Linked DNA regions of Homo sapiens: regions 2, 3, 4, 5, 6 and 7 are each reported to be linked to region 1. Evidence: microRNA targets listed by miRTarBase, many of them from high-throughput screens and not tested one by one. Region 1 holds a microRNA gene; each other region holds the end of a gene's coding sequence.
What was found. Region 1 holds the annotated microRNA hsa-miR-155-5p (UUAAUGCUAAUCGUGAUAGGGGUU, at 2,425-2,448, opposite strand). A microRNA usually pairs through its seed, bases 2 to 8, with sites in the 3' UTR of a target mRNA and lowers its output. Matches are read on the target gene's strand: a 7mer-m8 pairs with bases 2 to 8, a 7mer-A1 pairs with bases 2 to 7 and ends in A, and an 8mer does both.

Region 2: miRTarBase lists LPGAT1 as a target of hsa-miR-155-5p. Seed matches in the 3' UTR shown: 7mer-A1 at 2,341-2,347.
Region 3: miRTarBase lists UBA3 as a target of hsa-miR-155-5p. The part of its 3' UTR that is shown has no 7-base or 8-base seed match.
Region 4: the mRNA of ZNF300 is a reported target of hsa-miR-155-5p. Seed matches in the 3' UTR shown: 7mer-m8 at 2,557-2,563.
Region 5: miRTarBase lists DIPK2A as a target of hsa-miR-155-5p. Seed matches in the 3' UTR shown: 8mer at 2,311-2,318 and 7mer-A1 at 3,108-3,114.
Region 6: miRTarBase lists CNOT10 as a target of hsa-miR-155-5p. The part of its 3' UTR that is shown has no 7-base or 8-base seed match.
Region 7: the mRNA of AIFM1 is a reported target of hsa-miR-155-5p. The part of its 3' UTR that is shown has no 7-base or 8-base seed match.

The regions. Positions count from the first base shown.
Region 1 is chr21:25,572,362-25,576,430 of GRCh38, reverse strand. MIR155 (microRNA 155) reads right to left here and starts at 2,451; the gene lies at 2,387-2,451. It overlaps MIR155HG (MIR155 host gene), which reads right to left. Exons shown (of 3, transcript NR_001458.3): 3 at 1,263-2,538. RefSeq lists enhancers at 185-234, 627-776 and a silencer at 2,328-2,507.
Region 2 is chr1:211,746,239-211,750,307 of GRCh38, reverse strand. LPGAT1 (lysophosphatidylglycerol acyltransferase 1) reads left to right here. Exons shown (of 8, transcript NM_014873.3): 8 at 258-4,069. The coding sequence ends at 409. Among named protein-coding and RNA genes, the nearest start is that of NEK2-DT, 73 kb to the right of the region's middle.
Region 3 is chr3:69,051,753-69,055,821 of GRCh38, forward strand. UBA3 (ubiquitin like modifier activating enzyme 3) reads right to left here. Exons shown (of 18, transcript NM_003968.4): 18 at 2,978-3,773. The coding sequence ends at 3,685. TMF1 (TATA element modulatory factor 1) reads right to left here and starts at 581. Exons shown (of 17, transcript NM_007114.3): 1 at 193-581. The coding sequence starts at 334. RefSeq lists an enhancer at 173-642.
Region 4 is chr5:150,892,046-150,896,114 of GRCh38, forward strand. It overlaps ZNF300 (zinc finger protein 300), which reads right to left. Exons shown (of 6, transcript NM_052860.4): 6 at 2,354-4,069. The coding sequence ends at 3,379. It also overlaps a transcript of IRGM not described here. Among named protein-coding and RNA genes, the nearest start is that of ZNF300, 11 kb to the right of the region's middle.
Region 5 is chr3:143,989,126-143,993,194 of GRCh38, forward strand. DIPK2A (divergent protein kinase domain 2A) reads left to right here. Exons shown (of 3, transcript NM_173552.5): 3 at 385-3,243. The coding sequence ends at 716. Among named protein-coding and RNA genes, the nearest start is that of DIPK2A, 19 kb to the left of the region's middle.
Region 6 is chr3:32,773,316-32,777,384 of GRCh38, reverse strand. CNOT10 (CCR4-NOT transcription complex subunit 10) reads right to left here. Exons shown (of 19, transcript NM_015442.3): 19 at 3,510-3,928. The coding sequence ends at 3,774. Among named protein-coding and RNA genes, the nearest start is that of CNOT10-AS1, 38 kb to the right of the region's middle. RefSeq lists a silencer at 2,794-3,088.
Region 7 is chrX:130,126,146-130,130,214 of GRCh38, reverse strand. AIFM1 (apoptosis inducing factor mitochondria associated 1) reads left to right here. Exons shown (of 16, transcript NM_004208.4): 15 at 49-245; 16 at 587-853. The coding sequence ends at 658. It also overlaps a transcript of RAB33A not described here. Among named protein-coding and RNA genes, the nearest start is that of ELF4, 18 kb to the right of the region's middle.

The DNA of each region.
Region 1 (4,069 bases):
GTCTTGCTCATGCTCCAAGAATTTTTGTAATGACTGGTCAGGAGGAATCCCTCTAAGATGAGGAGATAGGCAGTCAGAAGCCTAGGTGGGCTGGGCGTGAGAGAAAACCCAGGAACCCTGGTTCTTTGGGTCGTCACCACGGGATTGATTATAGTTAGTTTGGAGCTAGAGTGTCTTTGGGGAGATCTGCTATGGTAGATCATTTGATTTAAATGACTGAAATGTAAAAGTTTGAAAGTTTGTGTTTAACACTTAATGCATAATAGACATTGTGCTTTTCACATGCATGATTTCATTTAAGCCTACATCTTATGAAATATGAAATATATTCATCATTTTATTGATGAAGAAATTGAGGCTTAGAGGAAGATTAAGTAACTTTCCAAAGCTTCATGTGAGTGTACCCAAATGCTCTTCAAATAAGGCATTTCCCAGCACAGCTTTTCTTTAAGTGCCTTTGTAATGTTTATAGCTTTTTATTGTAACAGCAGGAAGGTTATACTACAATAGTTTATTCCAGTCCTAATGTTCTATGACTTTGTGTCTTTAGGCAGCAAGCAGGATTTTGAAGAACTGGGACTCAAAGCAAGGAGTCCTCTTGTAGATATACAGTGGCAGATAAAATGAATTGAACAGACACTTTTTTTTTTTTTTGAGATGGAGTCTCACTCTGTCACCCAGGCTGGAGGGCAGTGGCACGATCTTCGTTCACTGTGAACTCCACCTCCTGGGTTCAAGTGATTCTTCTGCCCCAGCCTCCTGAGTATCTGGGATTACAGGCACGCACCACCATGCCTAGCTAATTTTTGTATTTTTAGTAGAGACGAGGTTTCACTATGTTGGCCAGGGTAGTGTAGAACTCCTGACCTCAAGTGAACCACCCGCCTTGGCCTCCCAAAGTGTTGGAATTATAGGCGTGAGCCACTGTGCCTGGCCTGAAGAAACACTCTTGAATGTGTTCTACCTACATGGGAGCTCCGTGGAGCCACAAGCTCATTCCAGGTGTTAGGAGAAGAAATTTGTGTTGGCAGCACATACAACTTGAACAGAAAGTGAGGAGAAGAAATTTGTCTTGGCAGCACATACAACTTGAACAGAAAGTGGGGCAAAGCCAAATGGGTATTCTTACATGAGAATACTGTGTCCTAGGAGTCAGGAATGTTCCCTTTAGTGTCCTCATAATTTTCTTCCATTGTCTTTTTTTGGCAGATAGCTTCTGGAATTATAATTTGTACTTTGCAAAAGAAAATGGGCCATAAAAATTATTTTAAATCAACTAAAGACTCATGAGATTTATTTGGTTACAGTGAATAACCTGGACAAAATGTTGAGAAGAGTTGTTAAAACAAGTTTACATTAAATATACTAACAATTACGTTTGGTTACATATTTGTAAGTGATGGTTATTTAGAAAAACTGCATAGAAATCCAAACCTTAAATATTCTGCAAATCAAATCATTAGCTTTTCTCTTCTCTAATAAAGTAGGGTGACTAGTTCTTGGATTAATCTAACTATAACATTAATGTAGCACTTGATTATCTTATGGAATAATTCTCTATCTCATCTAAGCCTCACAACAACCTTGTAAAGTATTATCCCCATATGGAGGAAGAAACAGGCTTAGAAGTGGAAAGGTAGATTCTCTGCTCGCACAACCGTATTATGTGGCTAAGCTATTGAACTTGAACCTAGATTTGGGACTTCATTTCAAATATGAAATTTTTTGATTAAATCTTTTTATCTTGTATGGAAAAAATATCTCATTAGCTGTCAGATGTTATTTACCCTGCTAACTGTTAAAAATATTTCATTAAAAAAATTCAGCTTCATAGCCTTTCAGTTTCCCTTTAAGAGTCAAATAAAAGTATTAATTTTAAACTGAAGTTGCCTGAACAGAAAATCGTTACCTGGGGGAAAGTACCAGTTTCTAAATCTTTTAAAAAACGTTGCCAGACAATCCATGATATAACTGGAGGTTAGTAGTCCTTCTAATTTTTAACTACAAAAATATTATAGAAATTTGTGTTTAGCCCACATTTCTAACAGTTGAATCAAAGGTGTTTATGAACATTATAATGAACAAGCCAAAACCTGCAATTAAGAATGACATGAATATATTTTCTGTTAATGATAAAAACAAACATGGGCTTGACATTTAAATGAAAATGTTTGCATTTAGGATACTACTGATAAATCTTTTAAATAACCTTACTTTCAAAACTTAGTTTAAGGTTGAACATCCCAGTGACCAGATTATGATTAACAGATTGAAAAATGATAAAGCCTGAAGTCTAAGTTTATCCAGCAGGGTGACTCATGCTTCTTTGTCATCCTCCCACGGCAGCAATTTGTTCCATGTGAATGCTAGTAACAGGCATCATACACTGTTAATGCTAATATGTAGGAGTCAGTTGGAGGCAAAAACCCCTATCACGATTAGCATTAACAGCATACAGCCTACAGCAAGCCTTCAGCACTCAGAGGATGAGGCATAAAGAATTTAAACCACAGATTTCCCCTTCCTGGTTTGTGCCACCTGCAAGAGAGAAAGAAATGTTTGTGTATGCACATGCGGTTATAAAGCTGGAGTGACAGCATATAGTAAATCTGAAAGGAAAATAGTCCATTTTCTGTTGAAAGGAAGGAGCTCATTAAATCCTTGGAAGTAATTTTTTGAAAGTGGTAGAGAAATTGGCAATTAAAAGATGACATTGTTACCTTTAGGCATATTTGAAGACTTTGAAAATTATGTTTTAAATTCTATTCTCTAGTTTTGAATCGGGTACACATATGTATCATCTTCTTTAAATAAAAAACAAAAACCGCTCTTCGGAGTTTTCAAATGCCAAAATGCAAAGAGGAAAGCTTGCATTCTGACACAGTACAGTTTTTTTTTTTTCTGATTTGTACTTCATCTAGGAGCTAGACAATTAAAGGCCCAAATGTTCAAAATAGTCCTTTATGATTTATGAAAATTAAAACCCAATTAACCTGTTTTATAAGGGTAGGGTTCAGGCTGAATTTTTCTTTCTGTAATACATAGTTGAAGTTTTACCTTTATTCTTTCAGGAAATGTGATACAAGCAATGGAGGTTTGCCTACAAACGAATCTATCTGAAAATGTCCCCGTCTACTATTTAGAGATTCCTTTGGGGAAAGCACTACCCAGTGGCTTTGGTTTTGACTACATAAAGGAAGTATGACTTAAAGAGTCCTCTGTGTTTCAAACTACTTGTCTTAGGCAGAGGGTTGATTAAAAAAAAGAACAAGATGAATTTGCTACTTCCTTTTAGAGTCTGATTTTACTCTCTCAGATAAAGTGACATTTCTCCCACAGGTTTCTGATTTCAGTGTTACTATAACAGAACCTAGAAGTTAGAGTATCATTCAAGTATGTGGTCTCCTGCAGTACAAGAGGGGAATCACCTTTTCTTTTATTTAATAATGAAACCAGCTAGATATAAAAATGTGACTAAGTTCAAAAGAAACGTATGAAGTAAAAAATTCCCCAGTGAATATATTTTGACAGGGCAGAATATCGTGGTTTGGAAATTTCCAAACCAAGGAAATATATTATTCTTACTGATAGTATTTTTTTTTAAACTTTACTGTTTTCTGAGATGAATTAGTTGATGATGAAAAAATTTGGGTTAAATGATGTCACTTCAGGAATTCAATTCATTTTACAGAATTTCAGTCAATAAAGATTGTAAAAACAAGGACTTTTTTTCCCCCTTACAGGGTCCTGGACACAGTAAATGCTCAATAAATACATATTAATAATGTAGTGTTAGTGCCACCCCAGCCAATATAACTCGCCCTTTTCTTAAAAGATGTGTTTAATTTGTATTGAAGGTAAATTGCTGGCATACTATTCTACCCATAAATTTTATTCCTGTTCTTTAAAGATAACATATGAGCACAGGTATTAAAATAAATATATTTAGTATACTAATTAGCTTTTTCCCTCTTTTTAAATATACATACGAATTGCCTGATTAGAGCACTCAGAAAAGTGACAGTGTTTTTGATAATGTGTTATATATATTAAAAATTCTAATAGCTTT
Region 2 (4,069 bases), not on the chromosome of region 1:
AAGGATGCACATGAGCCAGCTATTCATTAAGTGGAGGAGGACAGCATTGCAGGCAGAGAAAAGGCAAAGGCTCAGAGGCAAGAAGGGGCTAGGTAGTACAGAAATTGTATTTCAAATAAAATCTCTCCTCTGGGGCACTGGAAAGTCACTGAAGGTGCTTTAACATGTACAAATGTAGTTAAGCTAATATTCAACTTTTATTCCAGGAGACCTACCATTACAGTAAAACAAACTAATATTTCTATCTTGTCTTTTAGGAGCTTTTCCACCTTCCAAGGGCCATAAGGAAGCTGTTTCCAGGGAGATGACCCTCAGCAACTTGTGGATATTTCTCATACAGTCTTTTGCATTTTTGTCAGGCTATATGTGGTACAACATCATTCAGTATTTTTACCATTGCCTGTTTTAGGAATTGACGTGGACTTGTCAAGGTCACCGTAGGAGTTCAGACTTTCTTTCATAAGTGTGCATTATTTTACATGTGCAAATCAGAATATATTTAAAAAAAAGCAAAAGAAATTCAATGGATGGATTAATATTTATCCCCCTTTGGGATATTTTAAAATCTACTAAAATGAGGATTAGTAATATAATGACCTGCTAATATATTTTAAGAACATGTTTTAAAAAGATACACTCTATCACATATTTAAGCAAACATCACATTTGGAGAAGAGGAAATCATAAAATCATCCTAGAAGACTATCTGAGAGAAATTCTGTTGCCACCAGTTATACTTGACAATTTAGTTGAAGCTCAGAAAGTTATATTCATCCCTCTTAGCTGTAGTCTATATTAGGGCAGTTCTCTAGAACGCCCACATTTCCACCAACTCAGTAAACTTGAGGGGAGCTGGTTGGCACCTCGTGAAGAACTCTTTCCCTGTCGTTTGCAGTAACAAACTCCAGTCTGTTGCAGTAACAAACTCCAGTCTGTTGCAGTAACAAACTCTAGAATATTGACATTCTCTGTGGGGGAAAAGCAGTGTCCACTGGACCCCTTCTGGTACTGGATGTGTTCTTTACAAAGGCTAGCTCAGTCCAACACTGTGTTTACATACACTCGTGCTTTTCCTTATCTGACTTCTCATTTTGTATCAGAGGCATATCATAAATTGATAATTTTGCAAAATGCACTTTTTTGAGATGCAGATATAGCAAAGGATTAGTAATATAGCCTGAAAACAAATGGGAGCATAGCAGTGTGTGAGGTTCTCGAGAACTGTCTTGTCTCTGTGTGTTTATTTGCCTGCCAGTGCTCTCCAGCGCCATCCTGCCCTGGACACCACCCTGACGTGATGCCTCTATTGCAGCTCAGAGGCTTTATTTTTTCCATTTTGACATTGGCACTAAATGCATTTGGGGATGGTTAAAACAAATTACTATAGAACATTTAAATGATCAGTTTAAGGGGAAATAGGCTAGTTTATAGAAAAATAAGAGCTAGTGGCTTATAATGGTGACAGGTTCTCATGTGGCACCCCTAGGACCTGTGCAGACAGTAGTCTGTTGAATCATTACATCAAGGAGCTGCCCCTGTCAGGGTGAGTGTAATTAGGAACGATACCAGCACATAAGGCTCCCCCCAATCTCTTCCAGTTGCTTTTTCTTTTTTCTTTTTTTTTTAGACAGGTCTTACTCTGTCACCCAGGCTGTAGTGCAGTGGCATAATCTCAGCTCACTGCAGTCTCTGCCTCCCGGGTTCGAGCGATTCTCCTGCCTCAGCCTCCCGAGTAGCTGGGACTACAGGCACCCACCATCATGCTTGGCTAATTTTTGTATTTTTAGTAGAGATGGGGTTTCACCATGTTGGCCAGGCTGGCCTCGAACTCCTGACCTCAGGTGATCTGCCCACCTCGGCTTCCTAAAGTGCTGGGATTGCAGGCGTGAGCCACCACGCCCGGCCTCCAGTTGCTTTTGAAGAGGGTAAAGTCAAGTTTCTATTTCTAGAAAACATTTTTTAGAAATTTGTTGCGATGTTTGTACAATTTACCTCATAAGAGAACCACACCCTTCTCCAAAAGTGCTGGTACTGCATCAGTGAGATGAGTAGGGTTTTTGTTTGGGATTGTAAGACTATTAAGATCCTAGTAAGTCAGTGGTAGTTTACTGTGATGTGAGCATTGTAGATTCCCCCGTTGTCACTAATCACACAACAATTTTGAGAAGTAGGCTATAAAACAAAAAAAGGTTGCTGTTTTCTATTTTTAAATAAACCAAAAAAAAACAGAAAAGATGTGAATTTTCCCCAGTTATGTGGGAAAGGTAAAGCAACACCAAATAAAAGCCCACAGCAGCTTCATCTTTACGATAACTCAGTGCATATGTGAAAGAGAATGATGCATTAACTGAAATACCTCATTGAATATTATACTACTACTGGTAAAATGCAGAAGACAGTGTTAATGTGTTTGGTTTGGGGACTGGTTGTTATAAAATGCAATTTTTTTTTAAATCTAAGCATTTCATTATGTGTTCTACAGTGTCGGTGAATAAATGAAACCAATCTCAATTTAGAGGTATGGATGATGACAGAAAGCCCAATAGAAGCTTAATGATGCTTCTGTTTGAGGCCCAGCAAGCACCACTAAATTACTGGATGAAATGAAATTGTTCACTTGAGGGATTAGTCAACCATCTGGGGGAGAAGTTGCTCACTGTCAAATACAGCATGCACGGTCCTAGCTGATAGACCTTTTCCTCATTGCTACAGCAAGCCACAGGGTAGAGTGACCAGTTCTCCTATCCAAAAATAAATGCGAACATGCATACATAAATGTGGCTGAGGGCCACTTTTGCCATCACTGTGCTCCAAAGGAACATGATATTGTTAAATATACTGTACACATTAAACTATTCTATAAGATGCTTTACTTTTCAAGTACGGTGTCATTTTCACAGTCTCCAGGGTGACAAATGCCAATAGATATGTGAGTTAATTTTTTTAAATATCTCCGTGAGTTGTAAATAGATGTGTATTTGATCTGCCCTATCCTTCTTTGATTCTTTAACATGTTCTCTCTCTTCTGTTTGCAAAATATGTTTGAAAGCATTGGTAGTGCTTTCCTTATCAGTAACTGGAGTTCTCCTGCTTGCACTAGAGAAGGTAAAGAGAGAATCAGTATTCTTATATGGCAATCTGGGGAAGCAGCAATATGCCACTGTACAAAACTGAAGAAAAGTTCCTAATTTGTACTTTGTGAAGGGAGATGAAAGGACGTTTAAAGTATATATATTTTGTCAAGAGGAAAGAAGATAAAACTATGCCAGTTTTATATCAATAGCTTGTAGAAGCTCAGCTCTTCTTGGTCTTGGCTAGACTGCCTAGATTCCCACAGCAGACAAGGTTGAGAATCCATTGCTGGAATCTTGGTATTGATGAGTTACAGTGATGGAACATGTGCTTGGCCACAGGCAGGTCCAGTCACTGCAAAAGTGACCAAGCCAGCAGGTCACCCTTAACTTCAGAAACAATTATTGGTGGTGAACTGTACTTAAATTGCAGAGAAACCTGTAAGTAATGGAAGGTAAAGAAAAATTACAGAATGGAAAATAATATTTTGGGCAAGCAAACAAATTCACTGAGAATTCCAAAAGTATATTAAAAAAGAAGATAGCTATGAGTTCAGATCTATCTTATTGGTCTTTAATATTACAACCAATCCTTAACTTTCCACTATAAAGGAAGGATTACTAGATTGATTACTTTCTGGATAGATAATCTGGTAATAAATGATAGGTAAATCAAAAATTACTTTTATTTAGGAGTTTGAATTCTTACTCTCATCAGACATTTTTTTTCTAGGGACGCTTACTAATTAAATGATTTAAGTTGTTTCTTAGGGGTTTTTTGCCTATATATTTATGACTGTGTTAATGAGTAGTGAAATGATGCGGAAAGACAGCTATCAGGAAGAGGAAATACAGAAGCCTGAATAATCTATGGGTTAGAAAAGCATCCCTGAATAATCAAAAATTGGCAGTATTGGCATTGTTCTCAAGCCTTTTTATGAAAATGAAATCTGAAATCACCAAATGTAAACCTGGGAACATTATTCTAGTGTTGCTGT
Region 3 (4,069 bases), not on the chromosome of region 1:
CTGGGTTTTCCCTCAGGAAAACAGCAAAGACCGACTTGGAGGCTGAAGCAGCATTAGGGAACGGGCCGGGGAGAAATTACTTCCTGAAAACTCTCTCAGCAAGGAAGGACCCCTCTCTACACCACTTAACCTGCCTGCATCAAGAGAACAGCAGCCTCCGGGAGCCAGGAACCCCGCTCCTCTCTCTCTTACCCGGCTCTCCATACGGAATGGTCTCGGCCCAGATGCTCGGCTCCTCTTCCTGGATGTCCAGAACCCTGTCAATAGACTTCTGGGCCTGGGACAGGGCCTGCTTAGCGAAGCTGGAGAGCTGGGAGGCGTTGAACCAACTCATCGCCCCTCCTCAGCCGGCAGTGGCGGCGGCAGCACCAAGCGGGAAGGCCTCAGGCCTGGGGAAGGGTGCAGAGGAACGGCTTCGCTCCCCTTTTCCACTCGGCTGGTTCTGTCAGCGTGTGGCCATTACCCCGACAGCCTCCCGCGAGCCCGGGATGTTACCCTCGGCCGTTCCCGCACAGCTGAGACGAAGGGGGCCCATGTGCGCATGCGCTTGCTTCTTCCACGTACACAGCAACCAAATCTACGAGCCCAGAGTTCGGTCGACAGACGGAAGAACAGAAGAACGTTGACGTCACATCCGGGAGCGCAGGGTTGCCGTTAGTTACCGAGGAACGCGGAAGGGTTTCTATTGATGTCGATTTCGTGCTTACAGCAGTTCTTAGCGAAGGGGAAGCTATGGCTACCGATAGAGGTCGATTTCCCCGGAAGGAATATTCAAGTTTTCGTGTGTGTGCTTTCCAGGAAAATAGTTCACGTGCTAAAAGCTTGCACCTTGCCAGCAATAATTGCAAAGGGAAATTGGGCCTCACACTTCTCTTAGCCCTTTGTCTCAAATATTTAATAAGCTCTGTATTAACTTGGTATTGTAAGGAGAAACACTTGTTTGGGCTTGCCTAAAAGACAGGATCACGTATGAACACTGTGTCCAACTCGTGGAACACATGGTGCATAAAGCACAACCTCTCTCTCAAAATAGTAGTAAACTCATTGCTGCAGTCAAAATACCCCTAATACTGTGGTCTGTCGGTGTCCCCTGCACAAATTCCTATGTTGAAACCTAATCTCCAATGGGACAGTATTAAGGGGAGCCTTTAGGAGATGATTAGATGATGATGGAGCCCTCATAAATGGGGTTAGTGCCCTTATAAGAGAGGCCCAAGGGAGCTCACGGCAAGAAGGCACCAACTCTAAGCCAGAATAGCAGCCCTCACCAGACACCAAATCTGCCGGCTCCTTATCTTGGACTTCTCAGCCTCTAGAACTGTTAAGAAACAAATTGCTACTGCTTATAAGCCACCCAGTTTATGGCAATTTGTTACAGCAGTCCAAATGGACTAAGACACCTAGGAAGCACTAAAGCTGTTATCCTAACAATGTGCACTGTGCATATTACTTAAAACATAACCTTTTCTGTGTGCATTCTCTTCGAACATTTGGACATGGGAAAATACCTTAAATTGGTGGCCTTCCTAATCCAGTCTGCAGCTATATTTGGTTTGGGCCCAAGTTAAAGACAAAATCCTAACTAAAAGCCAGATTTCATTCAAAAATCTAGATTTCCAGCTGCTTTTGAAAAATATGAATACCAAGCATGGGAATAGTCAGCCAGAGTGGTCACCAAATAATTTTCACTCACTCCAGTTTGCCACAGACCCCTATCACTCATCCTATTACACCCTCCCTGCTGTGATTATTTACCTTATATGCCTGCCTCCCATATTTGAATATTTTACCCCACTGCAAGGAACTCTGCAAAAAAGAATTATTTTTCTTTTAAAAAATCAGATTGAACCCCTTAAGAAGTTATAATCATCTTCCAATAATTTTATCTAACTACAGTAAAAACTTGCATGTTAAAACTAACAATTTAGTCATGTACACAAGTAGTACCAAGTAACTCAAGTACTTTCAAACAGCTAAGTAGTCTGCAGAGGAGATTTGGGGCAGATTCGGGTTGAAATTAGCTGTACAGTTACAGTTCCAAGACTTCTAATTGTACAGCTTTGGTGAAATGACCTACCTAAACCATCTAAAACTATTTATTCAGCTCTCAGATAGAGTCACCTTCTTACAATGCTACTTTGAGAATTATTATAGCACCTATATGGTGCTAAATTTTAGTTCCTTCACTTTCAAAATTGTAAGCTACACCTGTAACTTTTCAGGTAGAGCTTATAAATTTATTCCGTATGGTTTTATAATAAAACTTATTTGTCAATATGTAGCTAGAAAGATTACTGAAAACTTAACTCAGTGACACATAAGTAACCAAAAAACATTTGAACAGAAAACTGCCATATCTAAGTCAAAAACAAAGAATGAGAACACATACATGTTCTCATATTAAAATACTAGCACCTACTTTTTTAGTATTTGTACTTAATTTTGTTTGAAGTTTTATTCACTTAAAAGAAACAAAAACATGGTCAGGCATGGTGGCTCATGCCTGTAATCCCAGCACTTTGGGAAGCCGAGGGGGGCGGGGGGGGGTGGATCACCTGAGGTCAGGAGTTTGAGACCAGCCTGGCCAACGTGGTGAAACCCCGTCCCTACTAAAAATACAAAAAATTAGCCGTGCATGGTGGCAGGCGCCTGTAATCCCAGTTACTCCGGAGGCTGAGGCAGGAGAATTGCCTGAACCGGGGAGGCAGAGGTTGCAGTGAGCTGAGGTTGCATCATCGCACTCCAGCCTGGGCAACAAGAGCGAAACTCTGTCGCAAAAAAAAAAAAAAAAAAAATTATATTGATACAGAAAGTTAAATTAAACCAGTAAATTTTTACTATAGAAATTGCTGTAGCAAAAGTATTAAGTGCAATAAAAATTTGATATAACTCTGCTACACATTTAAAAATTATTCCTATATTACCATGGAACTACTGATTACCCTTAATGTACTTTTAAAAACTTCAGTGAAAGAAGTACACAATATATGATTTTATTAATAAATAGTGCAAAAGCATCAGTGATAACTGTTTGAACATTAAATTTTTTAAACAGCCATGTCTTGGCATTAGTTAATATTGTGCATATTGGCCTCTATGGCACTACAAGTAAACAGATGAAAATATTGCCCATTTTCATGCACAGGTATTCAGCTATAACACCATTTACAAATCATTATGAACAAGATAAATTCTGCAATAATATTCATTTGGATGGCCACAATTAAATGAGTGTTATATCAAGAAATAGCCTATGTTCAATATACTCCAGATGTCAGATTGTAAAATGTAATGTTATTTAAAACTTAATTCTTTATTTTCCTTAAAGGGACACCTTTTGTGTATTTGGGTACTCAAATGAAAACTTAGGAATGCATTCTTTGACCATAATAACAAAATTCACACAAAAGAGGTTGTATGCTTCCTCCTCTAAAAGAAGCAATACATTTGCTCATAATCTCTCTCTCCAGGTATCATTTCTCATATTATTAATGAAAATGCTTACAAGCACCAACACCAAAATTCTGTCTTCAAGGGAAGGTTACAAAGTTAAAAAAGAGTGGTTCATTATATAAAAAAAGACAAATCGTGGCAACACTATTGCTAAAAATGACATCGATTCAACTTCTTAGCATCCACAAAGTATATTATTTCCATGAGTTTTCTATTATGTGGAGATTTTCCTTAAGAAGTAAAATGAAGTTTGAATAGTACAGTCTGTGGGGTGGTGACATCAGCAACCGCCAGTTCTTGTCCATCAACAAGCCCCAATTCTAAAACAGAAAAAATATTATTAATACAAGCAAAAAAAACTCAACAGAAAGGATAATACACATGTAAACAAACTACAGAGTATTACGGTCTAGAAAAACATCAAAATCCAATCCTCTTTAATCAAAGTAATATTTGATTTCTTAGAGATTTTAAAATATTCTACTAAAAGAGCAATTAATTCTATTAATATGTCTAAAGTTGTAAGTAATTATTACCTGACCATATACAAGGCATTAAGAGGAAATCTAGAACAAGCACTGATTACTTTCACCAAAAAGAGAGAAAAGAAAGAAAA
Region 4 (4,069 bases), not on the chromosome of region 1:
AAGAATCATCTTAACTCATTTAAAGATCCAACATGATTATCATAGGTCTGTATTCCCAATAAACTATCTCACTGTCAGGATGTATAAGTCATTTTTGAACACTAAAACATAAGGATTAAGATTAAATTTTTTATTAAATGGTGACATTAAGTGTTTTTATGGAGTTTTTTTTTTTCAATATTGAAGTTTGGCTAAATAATAGGAGCATCTGCATGCAAGCATCATGTATCATGAACCAATTCAGAAAACGGTGTGGAAGATTAACTGTGTTAATTACAGAAGGGAAAGGGAGGCAGGAGAGGCAGCATAACATAATTGTTAAGTGTGTAGACTCTAGAATCAGAATATCTGAGTTTTAATTAATCTCTCCAAATTATTTAGATATTTTGCAAAACCTGTTTATTAGGTCTAGTAAATATTTTGTGCAGTTTTGAGATCTTCTACATAGAAGGATATGTTGTCTACAAATAACAACACTTTTATCTCTTCCTTTCCAGGTTGCAAGCCCACTCCCTACTTTGCTTTTCTTATTGCACTGGCTAAATTCACCAGTGTAATGTTAACTAGAAAGAGTCAAGTAAATATTCTTGCCTTTTTCCAGCCATTAAATATGATGTTTACTGTAGGTTTTTTATCTATGCCCTTTAACTATTTGAGGAGGCTGCCCTTTATTCCCAGTTTACTTAAAGGTTTATTATTTTTTCAATCTACAATACATTTTTTTGAGACAGGGTCTCATTCTGTCACCCAGGCTGGAGTGCAGTGGTGCAATCACTGCAGCCTTGAGCTCCTGGGGTCAAGGTGTCCTCCCACCTTGTCCTCTTAAAGTATGGGGATTACGGACATGAGCCACAATTTTCTTGTTTTGTTGTTCCTATTTTGTGTGTTTTCCTATTTCTTCATCTTCTTTTATTTTTATCATGTCCTTTTTATTTTTTTGGAGTTAGATCACAGCGTTTTTTTATTCTAACCTATTGAGACTGTTGCTTAGGTATTTTCAGGCTTTCTTTTTGCCTGATCTATACTTACTGCTATACATTGTCCTCTATTATAGGTTTAGGCAGAGTAAATTTTGTGAATGGTATGCAGTAAATTTGTTTTTTCTTTGTTTTACCCATTTGGATAACTGAGCCAGAGGCATTACTGAAAAGGTGAGTTTCCTCCCATTGTTCTAGAATGCCAACTTTGTCATAATTCAAGTGTCTACAGGTAATTATCAGTTTTCAGATTCTCTTTTACCATTGATCTACATGATTACTCGTGTAACACCACATTGCCTTAATTACCACTGTTTTATAAGAAGTCTAATAAGTTATCCAAATTTGTTCTTCAAAAGTGTCTTAGCTACTCTTGCCTTGGGGCATTTCTGTATATCATTTTAGAACCAAATTATAAGATTTTTATAAAAAAGGTTGTTGAGGTGTTGATATAAGGTTCATTGACTACTGTGAAAAACTGATGTAATTTTGTTGAGGAGTGAAGAATATGACTAATCACACGTATTAGATACACTGTCAGGGCAACCATAGGATGCACAGATTAAAAAATATATAAAGAACAGACCATCAGAGTAAGCCTGATAAAAGAATTATGCAAAACAAGACATCAGAGTAAGCTCAATGTAACTATTGATGAAAACTAGGTATCTGCCATTTACCAACAGAGGGGAAGCTTAGTTCCACACAACTGTAGCTTCAGTTCCATATAAATAGAGCTAAAAATCCACTAGTTTTATAGCCATGTGCTAGCTACCCAAATGCTACATAGTATTTTTATTTCTGTTATTCAACAATAAAATTAGCAGATCCATTTTATGAATGGGTTTGCTCTTTTGGATTTCTCTTTTCCCACCCCAACAATATATAAATCACCTGGGATGTGGGGGGAGTGATATCTTTAACATTGAGTTCCCACATCCCTGTCCAGTGAATGGCATCTTTAATTCTCAGTTCCCACATCCCTGTCCAGTGTGCCCTCTACTCTACAGTTGTTCTCAACTAGAGGAGCCCCATGTTTTCACAACAGACAGTTTAGCCAAGCAGGAAGGGGATCAAGTGGATAGGAAATCAAGCAGGAAATATGTGCAGATGCTGTGTTTATCACACAGGTATTCTCATCCTTGCCAAGTATGCTCTCCTGCAGGTCACTTCCAGCAAGGGTGCTCATCTAAAAATGCTTATGGGGGAATGGATGGAATGACAGATAGTAGGTGTTATCTTAGAGGCCTCCAGTTCTCAAGGCTATACAGGCATTACTTCTCACACCAAGAGTTTTCCCCTGTAAGTTTTCAGGGCAAACAGTTGGGGCTTCAGGGAAAGGATCACAAAGAAGTGAAGAGACATTAGGCAGGGTCTTTATGTGCAATCACCACGGTTTATGTAAGTATATGAAAATAAATCCAAGTATTAAAAAACACAACCTTAACATAGCAAAAATAAGGCCACCAGGATCAGAAGACAGTAAAATGAGCCACTTATAGGGATAGGCAATCAAAAGCAGAGTGTCCAGAGGGAAAAGCAAGCTCAGACGTGGTTTTTACACATTAGTCTTAACATCTAATGCTTCAAGATAGAGAGTAAAGATTTAAAAAGTACTAATATTAACTGAAAATGAGCTCTGCATTGTATTTGTACTTACTGATAAAAAATACTCAGCTAGGAGAAGTATGTTTGCCTAAAGTCACACAATCTGTGAGGCACTGAGCCAGGATTAAACCCAAGGCCATCTGGCCTCAGTGCCAATGTTTTTCAGCTCCAAGTTCCCAGTTGGGAAGAGTAAAAGGGAGACCTGCTCAAAATGCATCAATCTCAAGGTCCTTCCAGAGATGCAGGTCAACTTATATGCTTGAGATGGGAAAATGCATACAGATCAACTTTACTGAATCTGATCAACCTATCATTCCATTTTTTGTACAAGAACTTTACATGTAGCTTTAGGGGTCATGCTCAAGCCCCTTCTTAAAATAGTGTATAGGTTTTATTTTATTGTTTACTTAAGCTTTCTTCCACGTCTTTTATAGAAAAATTAGTTTATGGCCATAATTATGACAAGCTAATATTAGCAGTTTCACAATGGCTGATTATCATTTTGTAGTATAAGGAATATGCAACTTGACAATATTCTGTATGCTTAACTTGCTGTGCTGATCACTGAGTTCATAACTTTAAAAGCTTTACATGCCATATTAAAAATGTTCTTCATTTATATAACTATTTTCCATCATCTTTGCTGGAAAAGTTAGGCATCACCAAACTAGAAACAAATTCCCTTAAAAATTTTTATCTATTGGGATGTTGTCCCCAAGCTTATCAAATTAATTGGGTTTCTAGTAATTATTAAGGCTTGAGCTAATACTAAGGCTTTTCTGTGGCCAGTTCATTATGATTTTACCACTGTGTGAATTCTCTGGTGTACAGTTAGTTGTGACTTCTGGATGAAGGCCTTCCCACATATAGCACATTGATAGGGTCTTTCCCCAGTATGAATCCTCTGATGTAAAACAAGGTCTGACTTCTGAGAAAAGGCCTTTCCACATTCAGCACATATGTAAGGTTTCTCTCCTGTATGAATTCGCTGGTGTCCCGGAAGGTGGGACTTCTGAGAGAAGGCTTTCCCACATTCAGTACATATATAAGGTTTTTCTCCTGTGTGAATTCTCTGATGTCCAATGAGATGTGACTTCTGGCAGAAGGCTTTGCCACATTCACTACATTTATAGGGTTTTTCTCCAGTATGTGTTCTCTGATGTATGATGAGCTGTGACTTGCGGGAGAATGTCTTTCCACATTCAGTACATTCATAAGGTTTTTCCCCAGTATGAACTAACTGATGTGTAATGAGTTCTGTCTTCCTGCTGAAGGCTTCCTCACATTGAGCACATTTGTAGGGTTTCTCACCAGTGTGAATTCTTTTATGTATAATGAGGTGGGACTTCTCACAGAAGGCTTTCCCACATTCGGTACACTCATACGGCTTCTCTCCAGTATGAGCTCTGTGGTGTATAATCAGCTGTGACTTCTGGGAAAAGGCCTTCCCACACTCTCTACATTCATAGGGTTTTTCCCCAGTA
Region 5 (4,069 bases), not on the chromosome of region 1:
TTCAGATTTGTTTTCTTTTAAGACCTAAATCAGATGTTCTCCTTTTTGCAGCCTTCTACAGCCCCAGGGACAAGTGCTAATTTAATTCCCCACTATTCCTGTAGCATTGTGTCATATTTCTTTATGGCACTTTCTGTGTATGATGGAAAGTCGCTAGACTAAACCTGTAAGTGGTAGAGACCTTTCTGAATCTTTCTGCCTAGCGTTAGTGGGCTCCCAGTGAATGTTTGTATGAATTTATATATTTAAATGTTTATGGTTATAATATACTTTTACCTAAAAGTGTAGAACAAATACTATTAATTAGTGAAATATTCTATTTTTGGAAGCAATGAAAACTATTTAAAAAATTTTTTTCTACTTCTGCTTTTCCTCCTTTCACAGATAAACCTGAAAATTGGGATGTATGGTATGAAAGCAAGTTTGATGACTGTGATAAGGAGGCTTGCTTATCATTTTCAAAAGAAATTCTTTGTGCTCGTGCCACTGTGGACCACAATTACTATGCTGTTTGTCAGAACCTCTTATCCAGACATGCCACCTGGCGTGGCACTTCTGGAGGACTCCTTCATGATCCACCAAGTGAAATTGCCAAAGATGGCCGGCTCGAGGCCTTGCTGGATGAGTGTGCCAACCCAAAGAAGCGCTATGGCAGATTCCAGGCTGCAAAAGAACTGCGTGAATACCTAGCACAATTAAGTAACAACGTGAGGTAGTCTATGGTGAACTTTTCTTTTTTTCTCCATTTAAACAGCACTGGCTAAAACTAAACCACCAAAAAACGATCTGAAAAAATGAAATTTGGAAGTGTTACATTCAGAGGATGATAAACTTGCACTGATAGATCTTAATGTTAACATCCATCAAAATAAGACATTACTTCAAAAATCACATGATGCTTCTGCAAATAAGTATGTTCTTATACTTTGGAGGCTTGAGCTGTCATCAGCTGCTCCCCACTACCCCGGAATGCTTGAGTGGATTAATGAATATTGTTAAGCTATTGGAAATGAGTCTGATAGTACATTGGCTTGTGTATCAAAGGGTACTTGGTACTTAGTTTGCATTTACTATCATGATTTTGTGAATCTCTTGCATTTACTTTGAATGTCAAGTCAGATTGGTCTGTTTTATAGGCCGCTTTTTCCTTCTGATGTGTAGGGTTTTTTCCCCCTTTTTTTTTTTAATTAAATTTTGAAAATTCAGGTTACTGTAGGTGTTCATTTAAATTTTTAATAGTTGTCATTCAGTGCTATTTGGTACATATTTACTGTTAGGGCAGGATTCCCAGGTTTACTGTGTTTTTTTTTTTTTTTTTTAAAGAAAGCTAAATATTACATTATGTAAATACTTCTTTTCACCAACTTCTGTAGTTTCACCATTGCATGGTGTCATTTCAGGTTATTTAACAGTTATATCCCTCTATGCCAATAATTAGAAGTGTACACTAAACATGAAGTTTGGCATATGTTGCAAAATGTCATTTTATCTTTTCTAAAGGCTTTAAGAAGAATATACTAGAATCTATATATTGATGTTAATTTTGATTCAGAAAAAAAATACAACCCAGTATCTAAAAAGTGTTAACTAGTCCAAGATAGTAATGCATATGCCAAAGAAATATTACACCTAATCTCATGTTTAGAATTTAAAATAGAATTGGTCAGCTACTTATTCTTACCACCCTACTTCCAGTATTTTAGCTCTGTCATTATTAAATTCAGATCTTCCTGATTATTTTTTCTGTTGAAAGTTAAACTACTGCTTTCAAGTAATTTAAAGTTATCCTACCTTTTATTCATGGGTAGTTTTGCAAAATTAACATGGTAGCCATTGTTTGAATTTAATCGGGCATCATAACTTTTCATTTATTGAGGAACTAATCATTATTACTATAAAGCATACAAATTAGCCAGTCAGCACACTTTGGTCTTCTTTACCTAAGGGTTAAACATCAGAACATCAAATTTAATTATTTGCATAGAAATGTGTGGGCTCTTTATATAAGTTGACTATCACTAACAGGTAATATTTTTCTGTTTGAAGTTGTTACTTTTGTTTACAGCAAAGTTTGATGTAGTGTGCAGTAGTGAGCTCTAGACTGATCTTTTTCTAAATCAGAAAGTGATTAAAGTATGCACAACCAAAGGCAGGTTTTTCTTTTTCATTTATTCAGCAACTATTTATTAAGCATCAACTCTGTGCCAGGCACGTTACTAGCTGCTACATACTGTCTGAACATGACATACGGTTAAGTAACTTTACAATTATTATCAAATACTTCAATGTAGATATTTCTTAAGTTGAAATAGCATTAACTAGGATAATGCTTTCATGTTATTTTATTGTCTTGTGATAGAAATTCAACTTGTACCATCTAAAACTAGGTTGCTATAAAAATAGGAGGATGAAGTCAATAAAGTTTATGCCAGTTTAAAAACTGGAAGGAAAAGGTAAGAGCTCTCCATTATAAAATAGTTGCATTCGGTTAATTTTTACACATTAGTGCATTGCGTATATCAACTGGCCCTCAATGAAGCATTTAAGTGCTTGGAATTTTACTAAACTGACTTTTTTGCAACTTTGGGAGATTTTTGAGGGGAGTGTTGAAAATTGCCAAACACTCACCTCTTACTCAAAACTTCAAATAAAATACACATTTTCAAGAGGGAGCACCTTTTATATTTGATAAGTTTTCATTATAAACCTTATAATACCAGTCACAAAGAGGTTGTCTGTCTATGGTTTAGCAAACATTTGCTTTTCTTTTTGGAAGTGTGATTGCAATTGCAGAACAGAAAGTGAGAAAACACTGCCAGCGGTGATTGCTACTTGAGGTAGTTTTTTACAACTACCATTTCCCCTCCATGAAATTATGTGAAATTTATTTTATCTTTGGGAAAAGTTGAGAAGATAGTAAAAGAATTAGGAATTTAAAATTACAGGGAAAAATATGTAAGTGAAAAGCAATAAATATTTTGTTCACTTTGCTATCAAGATGTTCACTATCAGATATTTATTATATGGCAGCAATTTATATTTTTAATCATTGCCCATTAATAGACGCAGTAAAATATTTTTGAATCAGACATTTGGGGTTTGTATGTGCATTAAAATTGTCTTTTGTACTGTAAGTTACTGTTAATTTGAATATTTTATTGAACTGTCTCCCTGTGCCTTTATAATATAAAGTTGTTTCTACAACTTTTAATGATCTTAATAAAGAATACTTTAAGAATCACACTTTTCAGACTATTTCTTAACTTCAGATATCCACATTTTTCTTGAGTGGAAAGTGAGTTTGAGTAGATAAGTTACTAGTTTCCTCTTGCATGCACTTTAATTAGAATTTTGAGGGAACTATCTGATTGGGTGTGCACCAGGCTTTAAGGTTATGTGTGTTTTCTTTTTCTGTAGTAGTGAGTTTTTAAAAAACTTTTACCACTAAAATGGAATTAAAAGAAAAACTTCATTATGGAAATTTTCAAATGTATGCAAGAGAATAACATAATGAACAGTAGTATATCATTACACTAACTTCAAAAGTTAACAACATGTGGCAAAACTAGTTTCATCTCTAAACTACTTGCTTCCAGCTTATTTTGAAGCAAATCTGAGATGTATCATTACATCTCAGATTTATATTACGCATTTTCTCCTAGTAAAACACAATACTTTTTTTTTTTTTTTTTTTGAAACTGATTCTCGCTCTGTCACCCAGGCAGGAGTACAGTGGCACGATCTCGGCTCAGTGCAACCTCTGCCTCCCGGGGTCAAGCGATTCTTGTGCCTCAGCCTCCCGAGTAGCTGGGATTGCAGGTGTGCCCACCACCACGCTCGGCTAATTTTTATATTTTTTGTAGACACGGGGTTTCTCCATGTTGGCCAGGCTGGTCTCAAACTCCGTACCTCAAGTGATCCGCCTGCCTAGGCCTCTCAAAGTGCTGGGATTATAGGCATGAGCCACCGCGCCTGGCCTCACAATACTATTTTTACATCTAAAAAATTACAATAAAAACTCAGTATCACCAAAGCAGGAAAACTTAAACACCATTGTTTTTCTCAGAAA
Region 6 (4,069 bases), not on the chromosome of region 1:
CAGAACAGCCCTGAGAGCTGCTGGTTGCCCATTTTTATGGTTATTTCTTGATGATGTGCTAAACAATGGGTGGATTATTCATGTTTCCCCTTTTTAGACCATATAGAGTAACTTCCCAATGTTGCCATGGCATTTGTAAACTGTTATGGCGCTGGTGGGAGTGTAGCAGTGAGGATGTCACTCTCATCACCATCTTGGTTTTGGTGGGTCTTAGCTGGCTTCTTTACTGCAACCTGTTTTATCAGCAAGGTCTTTATGACCTGTATCTTGTGCTGCCCTATCTCATCCTGTGACTTAGAATGCCTTAAGCCTTAACCACATGGGAATGCAGCCCAGTAGCTTTCAGCCTTATTTTACCCAGCTCCCATTTAAGATGGAGTTGCTCTGGTTCAAACCCCTCTGACAGAGTTACCTCAGTTAGCAGAGGTGGCTTTAACAAAATGGGGCAGGAAAAATAGGTGGGAAGAAGCCTTCCTGGCTATGGGAACCAGTATGAGTCCAGACACAGAGGTGAAGAACTTATATTTAATTTGCTGGGCTCTGCTGACAGTAGGCAGTGGAAGGAAAAGCTGAGCTGCTGGAACATTAATCTGAAAAACACTGAATTGGCCTCCCTTAGGATGTGCAGGGCTATGCCAGCAACTGCAGCAGGCATGGTTATGACATCTTTGCCAGGCTTCCCTGCAGCTTAGGATGGCTCCATGACATGATGTGACAAAAGAGATGTTAAGCTCAAGGCTGCTGAGGTTTCTAAGAAAGTTTTGTTCCAGATAGTCTCCCATCAAGATTAGCTAGTTTTTGCCCTGTTTTTCTTGCCTTCAATGTTGATGTGATACTGGAATATCTTGTGACTATGGAAACAAATGCCCAAATGCTGAGGACAGTGGCATGGAAAAACAGAGCTGAGTCCTGGATGGCATCACGGGACACTAGAACCCAGGCCAGCAGCTGCCTTCATATCCCCTTCTCAAGTGAGAGAAAAATAATCTTTAAGTCACAGACCTATTTTTTGCTACTTGCAGCCAAATATAGTCTTATTTAATATAGGACCTGCCCTACCCTTACTAGGTATTGCCTGCTTTCCCATAAACAAACCAGCATGCAGAGAAAGTTCTAATTTCTTGATTTCTCTAAAGATGTGTTTTTTTGAAGTACAATTATAGGGCTTTTCCCCTTCATACTACCATGACTATGTGAGTTCCTAGCGATTTATGAAGTCTGTGGACTCACTCTCCAGAAAATTCCCAGGCAAAGCAATTCTGCTCATTTGAGTGGGTCTCACAGTACTGCTGTCGGTCTGGAGTATGGGAAAGCAGAGACGGCAGACTTAAACCAACAGCAGTGCAGATTACGGGTCCTATGGTCCTACTTAGAAGGGGCTTCAAGAGGTCCAAGGAAGCTAGGCTATCTCTGCTTTCTGTGTCCACCTGTAAAAATCTACTCTGTGTACAAAACAACTACAATGTGGCACTCGATCAATGGAGCCCCTACATCCATCCATCCATGTTTAAAAAGAGGAGGATATTCTCCCCTTCTTTGAGTCTGTTGGCAATGCCTATCTCAGTCACAAATATTCAGTTCTAGTATATATCATTACCTGAGTTCCGCTTCCTGTCAGCAACAGAATAATTCAGATAGGCTGGGCTCGATGGCTCACGCCTGTAATCCCAGCATGTTGGGAGGCTGAGGCGGGCGGATCACCTGAGGTCCGGAGTTCGAGACCAGCCTGACTAACGTGGAGAAACCCCCATCTCTACTAAAAATACAAAATTAGCCAGACATGGTGGCGCATGCCTGTAATCCCAGCTACTCTGGAGGCTGAGGCAGGAGAATCACTTGAATCTGGGAGGCGGAGGTTGCGATGAGCCGAGATCGTGCCATTGTACTTCAGCCTGGGCAACAAGAGCAAAACTCCGTCTCAAAAAAAAAAAAACGGCCAGGTGCAGTGGCTCACACCTGTAATCCTAGCACTTTGGGAGGCTGAGGCGGGTGGATCACAAGGTCAGGAGTTCCAGACCAGCCTGACCAACATGGTGAAACCCCATCTCCACTAAAAATACAACAATTAGCCAGGCGTGGTGGCGGGCACCTGAAATCCCAGCTACTCAGGAGGGTGAGGCAGGAGAATCACTTGAACTCAGGAGGCAGAGGTTGCAGTGAGCCGAGATTGTGCCACTGCACTCCAGCCTGGGAGACAGAGCAAGACTCCGTCTCAAAGGAAAAAAAAAAAGAATAATTCAGATAAAGTTTCAGATAAATCAGTACTTATCCACACACTTGTCTCTCTAGTTCTGAAACTGAGGTAACATGTAGATTCAGCTAATGTGTCTCCAAACTAGGGAAGTGAAGCATTGTGACGTTAAGGGATATTCCTAAATGGCAAGCTTTGATGAATCTACCAAACACCATCTTAACTAGGGGGACACCCAATTTACTAGAGCAAATCCACATTGTCTTTTGTTTGTTTGAGACAGGGTCTCACTCTGTCACTTAGGCTGGAGTGCAGTGGTGCCATCATAGCTCACTGCAGTCTTGAATTCCTAGGCTCAAACAATCCTCCCACCTCAGCCTCCAGAATAGTTAGGACTACTGGCATGGGCCACCATGTCCAGCTTTTAAAAATGTTTCAGAGACAGAGTCTTGCTATGTTGCTCAGGCTGGTCTTGAACTCCTCAAGTGATCCTCCCGCCTTGGTCTCCCAAAACATTGGGATTACAGATGTGAGCCACTGCACCCACTTGTATTGTTTTTTCCCCCTACTTAATGTTAGTGTATATACATCCTATTGGCAAATTTTGTCAACGTCAATCCCACAACACATAACTGTCTCTTGGGAAGAAGCTATTAAATTCTTGTTTGCATTTGCAAAAGGGTTAGTAATGAACCTTGAACTGCCTGCCAGCAGACTCCAGAACCTAGGAGAGTGAACAAGGCCAGTACACTGAACCCTGTTGTATTTGCACTTTTTAAGCAAATGATTCCTAACAGATCAGTTGTGTCTTCTTTTTTGAGGCAGTCTTGTTCTGTCGCCCAGGCTGGAGTGCAATGGTGCAATCTCGGCTAACCGCAACCTCGACCTCCTAGGTTCAAGCGATTCTCCTGCCTCAGCCTCCTGAGTAGCTGGGACTACAGGTGTGTGCCACCATGCTTGGCTAATTTTTGTATTTTTAGTAGAGACGGGGTTTCACCATGTTGGCCAGGCTGGTCTCAAACTCCTGACCTCAAGTGATCTGCCCACCTCAGCCTCCCAAAGTGCTGGGATTATAGGGATGAGCCACTGTGCCTGGCCCAGTTGTATCTTCTTAACCTACTTTCTCAACACATTTTCTGGTCTTTTCAGTCATAACTAGACATAAAACACGTCAACTCTCTTTCCCTCCCCTTCACCCCCAGGTCAGCTTCTGAACTGGCTATTTCATCTACTGCTGATGTTCTTTGTCAATTTTTGAACGTTAACACAAAACCTCAGATGCTAAAATAATCTAATAGTCAATAAAAGTGTAAAAGACTTCTGATAAAATTATGTTTTAATTGCCTATGGCATATATTACATAATGGCTCAAAATTAATAGTCTGGCTGAAATTAAGAAAAACAGCTGATGATGACTTAGTAAATCCTTAATTTTAAGTAAGCTTTTGGCCAAATGTCAGGGGTAGAATTGACTCAAAATTAACAGCCTTCACCATCTTTTATTCATTCTGCTGTGATACAACTAAAATGGCCAGTAAATTCTCCCCTGGGTCTCAGGTAACAGTTTTCCAAAAGTGAAGTATCACTTTCTCTGCACAGTGGTGAAAGCCGGCATTTGGATGGGCTGGATCGGGTGGACAGGCTGAAACACTGGCTTCTTTCTCACTTCAGAGTGTGTTTTCACTGCAGGGAGCAGCTGATTCCTTTTGATGATCTGTAAGGCCAGCTGAGTATTACCTATAAAAACACTTCCCGTTAAAAAACAAAGCACAGAACAATACTGCCACACACAAAGCAAGACATGAAAATCCTGCTGGGGAGGTAAAAGATGATCTAGAAGAGCTGTCATCTGCAGCCTTGGCTGTATACTGGAATCCC
Region 7 (4,069 bases), not on the chromosome of region 1:
AGTTTTGATTTTGCTTCCATGTTTATTTGTTTTGGGGGCTGGCCACAGGAACTGGTATCCGATCAGAGAGTGAGACAGAGTCCGAGGCCTCAGAAATTACTATTCCTCCCAGCACCCCGGCAGTTCCACAGGCTCCCGTCCAGGGGGAGGACTACGGCAAAGGTGTCATCTTCTACCTCAGGGACAAAGTGGTCGTGGGGATTGTGCTATGGAACATCTTTAACCGAATGCCAATAGCAAGGAAGGTAGGTGCCTGTCATAACTCTTAGAGGAAGATGGGAAGTACGGCTTAGAAACATTCCTGTAACTTCATCGGGTGCCCTGAGATGCATTGTCCCCCGGCCAGGTCAAATTGTGCCTGAGCAGAACAAAGGTATAGCCTTGGCTCAGGAACATTCTTTTTCACTTGGGACTTGGCTGGGTGACCTGGGAGTTGGCAGGCTGCTTGTTTGGGGTTAGTAGAGAACTGTTCCCACAACTCCCTCCCAGTGTGATATGGGGACTGCCCCAGGTAGCCCCATTGTGTGGGCATGGCCTGAACGCAATGGAGTAAGTTAGGGACCTATTGTTACTCTCTCTCCCTCAGATCATTAAGGACGGTGAGCAGCATGAAGATCTCAATGAAGTAGCCAAACTATTCAACATTCATGAAGACTGAAGCCCCACAGTGGAATTGGCAAACCCACTGCAGCCCCTGAGAGGAGGTCGAATGGGTAAAGGAGCATTTTTTTATTCAGCAGACTTTCTCTGTGTATGAGTGTGAATGATCAAGTCCTTTGTGAATATTTTCAACTATGTAGGTAAATTCTTAATGTTCACATAGTGAAATAAATTCTGATTCTTCTAAATTAAATTCTGTTCTCTTGTCAAGGGGGCAGGTGGGTGAAGGTGGAAAGCCACGCATATTAGAAAGCAAGCAAATTGCAGCACCGACCAAGCACAGGATTTTTCTCAGCCATGTATTCATGCCCTACTCCAGACGCAAAACTCCTTTCATTTCCGAACTTCCCTCACCCCTCCAGACCTCTTTGCACACACCTGCTGTGGCCTCGGCCCACAACACTTGACTCCCCTCCTCTCCTCTCAGGAAGTTCACTATCTCTGAAGACTTTCCCAGCCTTCCAAGCCTCATCCTTGTGTATGTGTCTCCCTGCTAGCCCATGACTTCCTGGAAGCAGAAGCCCTGATGTTAAGGCCTTGCTCATGGTTTTATCTCCAGAGCTTAGCACAGGGTCTGCTTCATAGTAAGTGCTTCATAGATCATTGTCGAATGAGTGAACAAATAAATGTATGGAATAGACTTTGTTTACCTGGAACAACTCCTGTCCCAGAACTGGATTGGGTCCTGCAGGGGACAGAAAGGGCACTTACTACAAATCTGAGTTCAGAGACCTGGTGCTTCACAGTTAAACCTGGAGACGGACTCATGGAAGGACCATCATCTCTTGACTCTTCTGCCTGCTGTCCTCATGCCAGACATCTGTCCTCTCTTAAGCTCCTTTTCTCTGAAATACGCTTATGGGCATACCTCACTTTACAGATTATTTCCTGGGAATACGATTCAAAGTTTCACAAGTCAACTCATTGTTTGGCATTTTAGATTGCTTAACTTTTAAAAATCAAATCTTATTATTATTATTTTGAGATGGAGTTTTGCTCTTGTTGCCCAGGCTGGAGTGCAATGGTGCGACCTAGGCTCATCACAACCTCTACCTCCCGGATTCAAGTGATTCTGCTGCCTCAGCCTCCCAAATAGCTGGGATTACAGGCATGCGCCACCACGCCTGGCTAATTTTGTATTTTTAGTAGAGATGGGGTTTCTCCATGATGGTCAGGCTGGTCTCAAACTCCCTATCTCAGGTTATCTGCCCGCCTCGGCCTCCCAAAGTGCTGGGGTTACAGGTGTGAGTCACCGCGCCCGGCCTAAAAACATCAAATCTTATTTAAGAGGAATTTGTTACTACTTTCAAGAGTCCTGTTGTTAAACTCCATGTATATAAAGAGAAAATTATTACCAGTCTGGATTTTTTTTAAATATTGGGTTTGATTAAGGGCAGTTTCAGCTTCAACCAAATCCCTTCTGAACACTGGGAGAACAGGCCAAATCTCCACCGTAAGAATTTGCAGTACAGGTATACCGAACAATACTATATAGATACAGGTTTACTCAAATGTGATCATATCCAAATGATATATCCAAATCTATATGTAGAAAACTCATCTAGGGTTGCGCACAGTGGCTCACGCCTGTAATCCCAGCACTTGGGGAGGCCAAGGCAGGTAGATCACCTGAGGTCAGGAGTTCGAGACCATCCTGGCCAACATGGTAAAACCCCATCTCTACTAAAAATACAAAAATTCGCCAGGCATGGTGGCATGCACCTGTAGTCCCAGCTACTCAGGAGGCTGAGACAGGAGAATTGCTTGAACCTGGGAGGCGGAGGTTACAGTGAGCCAAGATCACACCACTGCACTCCAGCCTGGGCAACACAGCAATATTCCATCTCAAAAAAAAAAAAAAAAGGAAAACTCATCTAGTATCCTGTGACATCGAAATTATTATACAGCAGTAATTGCTGCTTACAGAGATGGGGGTAAGACTAAGATCCTAGTGTTCCACAAATCATTAAGAAAAGATCAAATTGTGATTTGTCTTGCTTTAGTGTTGTATACAGTTTTGTCAAATTCTTTGACAGTAGTTATCCTTGTATAGTATGTCATTGTAGTTCAGTGGATTGAAATTAAATGATCTATTCATCTAATCAGTGTTCATTGGGTGCCTCCTGTGAGCCAGGTAGATGTCAGAATAGAAACATAGATAAAACATAGCCACTGCTTTTAAGGACCTCCTGGTGTCCGTGAGGAATGCAGACATGTGGATGCAGAACTCCAATACAATGAGCTACGTCCACAGAAGGACACAAAAAGTACTGTGGCCATGCCAAGAATGGAGAGATCAGCCACAGCAGCCATCCTGAGTCAACCACTGCTATTAGACCACTTCCTAAAGCCACCACTTGGTCCATGTCCCCTCCCTGTTTAAAAATGTACAGTGATTCCCTGTCACCAACCACATCAAGTTCAAAGTCTCCTGTAGTACTAAGCCCACTCTGTTTGGCTGACTTTCCGCCTGACTTTTAATATGGACATACACACACACACACACACACACACACACCTGGTTTATTGCCACCTTTAAACTTGTGTTCATGCTCTTCACATCCGGAACGCCATCCCTCCTCCCTTTATCTATCCAAATCCTACTCATCTTTCAAGGCCTACATCAAGTCCTGCCTTGGTGGCATGGTACCAGTTGGACTAGTGCCCATGCATGATTTCTCTCTGAACTCCAGTTGCACTTAGCACCTTTGAGTGTAATTGTTCTTTAAGTCATTCTAAAGGAATTGTCACCTGTCCCAGAGCAGAGCCCATGTTTTCTTTTCAGGATGGGGACCATATTGCTGCACCCTGGTGAAGTGCTGAGCAAGTCCTTGGTTGATTGGCTGGATGATGCTAGATAACAGGGCTGACTGTAAAAATGCACCTCTGTCTTGTAACCTCTGATCTCTGTAATTCAGGTTGTTTATGGGAGGATGTTCAGATCATCACCACTTCACTCAGCTGTCACAACTTGCCACTTACCCAGGATGCATTTAATCTGCCCAAGCCCCTGAGGATCCTGGGGTCCAAATTCTTTCTTTCTTTTCTTTTTTTTTTTCTTTTTGAGATGGAGTCTCGCTCTGTTGCCCAGGCTGGAGTGCAGTGGGTGATCTCAGCTCACTGCAACCTCCACCTCCTGGGTTCAAGCGATTCTCCTGCCTCAGCCTCCCGGGTAGCTGGGATTACAAGCACACGCCACCACACCCGGCTAATTTTTGTATTTTTAGTAGAGATGGGGTTTCGCCACGTTGGCCAGGCTGGTCTCGAACTCCTGACCTCAGGTGATCTGTCTTGCCTCGGCCTCCCAAAGTGCTGAGATTACAGGCATGAGCCACTGGCCTCTAGGGTCTGATTTCTGACTCCACAGACAAGCAGTGCCAGTCGAGGTTTGGCCCTCAATAGCTGGTCT